2 linked regions of the Homo sapiens genome follow. The protein of the gene in region 1 interacts with the protein of each later gene in a pairwise test. Each region holds a gene or a part of one and is shown in the gene's direction. Other genes may lie near its edges.

Region 1 (2,550 bases):
GCTCACAACCCACATGTGGGCCTGGGGCTGCAGACCCCCACCTGCCAGGGCAGGAACCCCTGCGGGCCACTTTGAGGGACAGACTTGGGTCACGTCTGGTTTGTGCAATCCTGGCCAAGTCACTTCACCTTTGAGGACAGGTGAAGGAAGGCAGGTCCCCCAGGAAAGGCAGGATGGCAGGAGGGGGCACGGGGAGTGAGAGTGCAGGTCAGGATGGCAGGAGGGGGCACAGGGAGTGAGGGTGCAGATCAGGATGGCAGGAGCAACCACAGGGAGTGAGGGTGCAGGTCAGGATGGCAGGAGGGGTACAGGGAGTGAGGATGCCAGACCAGGCCAGGGACTGCACTGAACGCTAGTGTCTGTCCCAGGGTCAGCAGCTGTGGGCCTGGCCCACTATGGCCCACAGTCCCCATGCTCAGGAGGTGGGCACAGCTGCCGTGGGAACCAGGACCTTGCGTTGCTCATCCTGGCACCGGCCTCACCTGCTGAGCTCTGGTCTCTGGTCTTGTCCTTGACGACCACAAATCACTTTCACAGTATGGGGAGTGAACTCCAGCAGGGACCCTGAGCCTGGTTCTGAACTCTGCTGTAGGAGAGCGGGGTCCCTCGCACTGTGTCCTACCCCCCAGTATTAGCACTCTGTCCTGGCTGCCCGGTACCCTGGCCCTGCCTTCTTCTCTGTCAGCAGGGGTGGTGGCAATGGCCCTTAGGTTTCATTTGGAACCACAGGGCCTGGCCTGGAATCCAGCAGGGGCTGGGCCAGGTTCTCACTGACCCCTGGCCATGGTGATGGATGGTGAGCCGGGGCCCTGGGAACCTCCGTCTCTCTAAGTGCTGTGTTGTGGGGTGACCTCGGACCTGTGGGCACACGGCTCAGTGAGATGGGGCTGGACTGACGCTCAGGTGTGCTGCTTCTTCCCTAGAGTGTGTGGCAGGCCCCAACATCGCCGCCATCGTCGGGGGCACCGTGGCAGGCATCGTGCTGATCGGCATTCTCCTGCTGGTCATCTGGAAGGCTCTGATCCACCTGAGCGACCTCCGGGAGTACAGGCGCTTTGAGAAGGAGAAGCTCAAGTCCCAGTGGAACAATGTAAGTGGCCGTCCTTGGGGGTCCCACGCAGAGGGGCACGTGCGTCCCACACTATGCGACCTCCTGCTGCGGGAGGCCGTGGACACCCGTGTGTGGCTGCACCCCGGCCTCCCCAGGCAGCTTGTCCTCTGGGCGTCCGCCGCTGTGGGTGAGCTTGGCTGCCGGTGCTGGGACCCTGGGGGGGCTGCCCCACGTCTAGCTCTTCCTCAAAGTGACGGCTTCCATGCGGGGAGTGTCCTCAGGGAGAAAGATTCTGCTCTGAAAACCTCCCACACTCACAAGCCCCTGTTTGCATTTCCCACCAGGATAATCCCCTTTTCAAGAGCGCCACCACGACGGTCATGAACCCCAAGTTTGCTGAGAGTTAGGAGCACTTGGTGAAGACAAGGCCGTCAGGACCCACCATGTCTGCCCCATCACGCGGCCGAGACATGGCTTGCCACAGCTCTTGAGGATGTCACCAATTAACCAGAAATCCAGTTATTTTCCGCCCTCAAAATGACAGCCATGGCCGGCCGGGTGCTTCTGGGGGCTCGTCGGGGGGACAGCTCCACTCTGACTGGCACAGTCTTTGCATGGAGACTTGAGGAGGGAGGGCTTGAGGTTGGTGAGGTTAGGTGCGTGTTTCCTGTGCAAGTCAGGACATCAGTCTGATTAAAGGTGGTGCCAATTTATTTACATTTAAACTTGTCAGGGTATAAAATGACATCCCATTAATTATATTGTTAATCAATCACGTGTATAGAAAAAAAATAAAACTTCAATACAGGCTGTCCATGGAAACTGGGCACTGTGTCCGCTGTATTCCCCCGACTGGCAAGGTGGCCAGGCACACGTGGGCCCTGTCCTGCCCGCTGACCTTTGCCACACAGGCACACAGCTGGCTTCAGACCATGGGGCAGGTTCTGTTTTCCCTTTTCCTTCCTCACCTGCTGGTCTATACAGAGCCCCGCTCTGAGGCCCTGTCCCAAATCCTAGGTGCATTTCCGTAAACGGTGGTGGCCCCACCAAAGAGGTGCCTGCGGCGGAGCCTGGCCAGGGCAGAGGCAAAGCAGGAAAGCGGGTACCTGTCTGCCCTCCCTCCAGCCATCTACACCTCCCCTCCAGCCATCTACACCTCCTCTCCAGCTCTACACCTCCCCTCCAGCCATCTACACCTCCCCTCCAGCCATCTACACCTCCCCTCCAGCAGTCTACACCTCCCCTCCAGCCGTCTACACCTCTTCTCCAGCCGTCTACACCTCCCCTCCAGCAGTCTACACCTCCCCTCCAGCCATCTACACCTCTTCTCCAGCCATCTACACCTCCCCTCCAGCAGTCTACACCTCCCCTCCAGCTGTCTACACCTCTTCTCCAGCCGTCTGCACCTCCCCTCCAGCAGTCTACACCTCCCCTCCAGCCGTCTACACCTCCTCTCCAGCCATCTACACCTCCCCTCCAGCAGTCTACACCTCCCCTCC
Region 2 (3,826 bases), on another chromosome or scaffold:
TCTGTTGCCCAGTGCAGTGGCCCAATCATGGCTCACCACAACCTCCACCTCCCAGGTTCAAGCGATTCTCCTGACTCAGCCTCCCAAGTAGCTGGGATTACAGGCACCCGCCACCATGCTCGGCTAATTTTTGTATTTTTAGTAGAGACGGGGTTTTGCCATGTTGGCCAGGCTGGTCTCGAACTCCTCACCTCAGGTGATCTGCCCACCTCAGCCTCCCAAAGTGCTGGGATTACAGGCGTGAACCACCATGCCCGGCCCCTTTTCTTTATACAAACAATGGCAAGACAACAGCTTCTCCCCCTAGATCCTTCAGAAGCAACATAGCCCTGATTTTAGCCTGGTGAGACTCATTTTAGACCTCTGCCCTCCAGAACTGTAAGATACATTTCTGTTATTTTAAGCCACGAAGTTCGTGGTAATTTGTTTCAGCAGCAATAGGAAATGCAGACCTGAAAAACCCATCTCTCAGGTCTGTTGAGAAGATGAATATCAAATGCCTAACATAGTGCCCAGAGCATTGTAAGTGCCCAATAAATGGCAGTTTTCATCACTATTTCCTTATCTTGGAAGACAGGAGTAGCTAAATTATCATGTGCCATTGATACCAAAGGCCTAAGGGAGAAGAAGAGAATGCATAGTGAAAAAGGAGAACATTTTAGTGGCCAGAAAATTCAGAATATCTTGCCCACTGACATATCACCACCTTCCAATAACCAACCCACAGCTGGGCTGCCTCCCTGGCATTTCTGTCATGTCCTTGCCTAGGTTTCTTCAATTTATGCTTTTCTTTTTGCTCAGAGCAAGTTTCTACCTTCCTTCTTTTCTCCCACTTTTATCTGCGTTTTCCACCCTAATTGTGACTCCTGCAATTCTCCCATAGAATATTCATTTGCTCTTTCCCCTTTGTCTAAACTCTGTGTGGCAGAGTCATCTCTGGAAAAGTCTGTACGTCACGGGGCATAATTGGGTCACCCAGGCCACCTCCCTTGATCGGGGCCCCTGCAGTTCCTTTCTGGACCAATAAAGCCCCTCAGCGGTGCCTCTGTCTTTCTCCACAGCCCTCCTTGTCCCCTTGATGTGCACGGTCATTTTTCCTTTGAACCCACGCTGTAATTGCACTTTAAACTCCTTGAGGCCAGGCGCAGTGGCTCACGCCTGTAATCCCAGCACTTTAGGAGGCCAAGGCAGGAAGATCACAAGGTCAGGAGTTCGAGACCAGCCTGGCCAATATGGTGGAACCCCATCTCTACTAAAAATACAAAAAAAAAAAAAAAAGCCAGGTGTGGCGGTGGGCACCTGTAGTCCCAGCTACTAGGGAGGCTGAGGCAGGACAATAGCTTGAACCTGAGAGGCGGAGGTTGCAGTGAGCCAAGATCGTGCCACTGCACTGCAGCCTGGGCAACAGAGCAAGACTCTGTCTCAAAAAATAATAATAATAATAAAAATAAACTTCTTGAAAGAAGAAATTGTCTTATTTCACACAGTACATAATCAGTACGAGTTGATATCGGTGCTGAATTTGGCCTCTACTGATTTCTGCCCTTTCCTCTCTATGCTTCTGTTATCTGAACTCCTACGTTTCACAGTCTATTTACTTTTGTCTCTAGTTTAGATACTAACCCAACTGGTCAGGAATAATGTCTGTACATACCAGTAATGAACTTTACAATGTGACTCAACCAGCTACATGAGTAAGTTTCCCCCTTGGGGGAGTTTGTGCAGTCTAACACGCAACAATAACTGGAAAGAATGAATGAAATTTCTAAGCAGAAAGAAATGAATGGCATTTCTAAGCAGAAACTACACAGAGACGCAATGGCCCAGATTCTTCCATTTCTCCAGCAAACATGAATTGAGTACCCACTGTGTGCCAAATTCTGAGCTAAAAGTGCTCATAAATTTTAACTGAACTTGTCACAGCTACCCAGGTAAACAGATAAAGGAAAACATTTAGAGATGTCTAAACTTACTTGGAAGGTTGTTAATACTTACAGTGTAACAATGAGGTTAAAATTTAGCAAGGCTTGAGACAAATAGAAGGTTTGCCTCCCACTGCTACCCTACAAAACTAGGACTTTGACCAAATTGACTGGTTTGCTATCTTGTGGGCACCTTGCTCTTCTGTCTCTACTCCCTAACTTTTCCTTTCTCTTTACCTGGAATGTCACCCACCCCCACCTCACTCCCACACATATCCACCTCTACTCTACATATCAAACCATACACATCCTGCAAGACTTACGTCTTCCCGCCTCAGGACTCTCACAATATTTCATCTCACTACATGTAGTATAATTGTGTGGGAATGCATCTTAGTTTCCCTACTAACGCAAAAAATCCTAGAATACAATAATCTCCCTTACATATCTTTGTATGCCTCAGAATGCATATTGAACCATTTAATACATTTTTTATTTACAGCAGGAATGCATGAATTGATTAATTAAATGTTGAGAGCTGTAGATGGCTTTTCTCAAGGTGCTTCAAGTGCAGAAGCCCAAGTGATTGACCCACACACTTACCTTTGTGTTCCTTCCAGAAAATCCTCAGGGAGGTGAGAGACCCATGTTCAGCTGTGTATGGCACCAAAGTCTATACATAGTTTCTGGGAGTCACTGTGGGCTGTGGGGAAGCACGTGGACTCTGGAGTCACACACACCAAGGTCTCTAGCCTAGCTCTGCCACTTACTGGTTGTGTGACCCCAGGGAACTTAATTTACAAATTTAAGCTTTAGTTTCCTCATCTGCAAAATGGAGCCTCCTCGCCTTTCTTCTTTTGCTACCGAACTGGGTTATGAGAATTAGATGCGTGCATGCAAAGCACCTGGTAGAGTGGCACACACCTGGCAGAAGGAAGTAAATTCTAGTCCCCGTTTTCACTTACCCTCATATACAACGGGGCACTTTTTTATTTGCCAACTATTTCTTTGAAGATAATAAAAGAGTCAGAAAATGATAGTTTTTAAAAGCACCCTGCAGTCCACATGGGAACCAACCACTACCTCTGGCCATGAGTTTACCCTTTGGGTTTCCATTTGTCATGGCCAAGGGCAGTGAGGGCTATGCCAGGGACCCTCAGTGTGTTTGGCCCTACCCAATCACCATCTCAGGTCTACCCCTTGTGCATTCCACCTTGCGGGGCTCAGTCCACCACTCAGAAGGATGCATTCTGCACACTCCTTGCCTGAAAGAACTCCTGAAAGGCACTGACCAGGCTCTGGAAGGCTATATTCTTTTCATTCTTTATAAAAGTTATGTGATTACCAAGCTCAATAATCAAATGTCCTTCATCGCTAAAAGATTATATGGCTTTGGTTTGGATGCTTTGGGAACAAGGAGGCAATACGCAATGGCTTGGTTTACTCATGTTACAGAAACTGTAGCAGTTATTTGGTAATGCTTTCAACAGTGCCTTCAGCTTGTGGGAAATCCCGAAGATGGCCAAAGACAACTCAACTGTTCGTTGCTTCCAGGGCCTGCTGATTTTTGGAAATGTGATTATTGGTGTAAGTAATGATTATTTTCCAGGAAATTCTGCACTTCCTGTAATCATAATTCTAGATGAATCAAAAGTAAGAGTTTAAAGGAAAATAATGCTGTGATTACTGGCTTCCTATATTTTTGCTTCATTTTAAGAAATGTGTTAGTAAATATGCTAGCTAGAATTTAACTGTATGTCAAAAGATCATGGTTGAAAAAGTAGATATTTTCCTCCCAACTTTAAAATATAAGTATCTAAAAGGAGTCATGTCAACCATAGTCAGTGTCTAAACACTCTGACTACGAACACACTTCACTATTTCTTTTCTATGTCACCTTGGTT

What was found.
Region 2: the proteins of ITGB2 (region 1) and UPK1B interact in binary tests that used the Homo sapiens proteins (3 or more experiments, as listed by UniProt).

The regions. Positions count from the first base shown.
Region 1 is NC_000021.9:44,885,276-44,887,825, reverse strand, and holds the end of ITGB2 (integrin beta-2 isoform 1 precursor), read left to right. Parts: intron 1-923; coding exon 924-1,090; intron 1,091-1,395; coding exon 1,396-1,458; 3' UTR 1,459-1,873; downstream 1,874-2,550.
Region 2 is NC_000003.12:119,183,302-119,187,127, forward strand, and holds part of UPK1B (uroplakin-1b), read left to right. Parts: intron 1-3,412; 5' UTR 3,413-3,440; coding exon 3,441-3,509; intron 3,510-3,826. UniProt on the Homo sapiens protein: Component of the asymmetric unit membrane (AUM); a highly specialized biomembrane elaborated by terminally differentiated urothelial cells.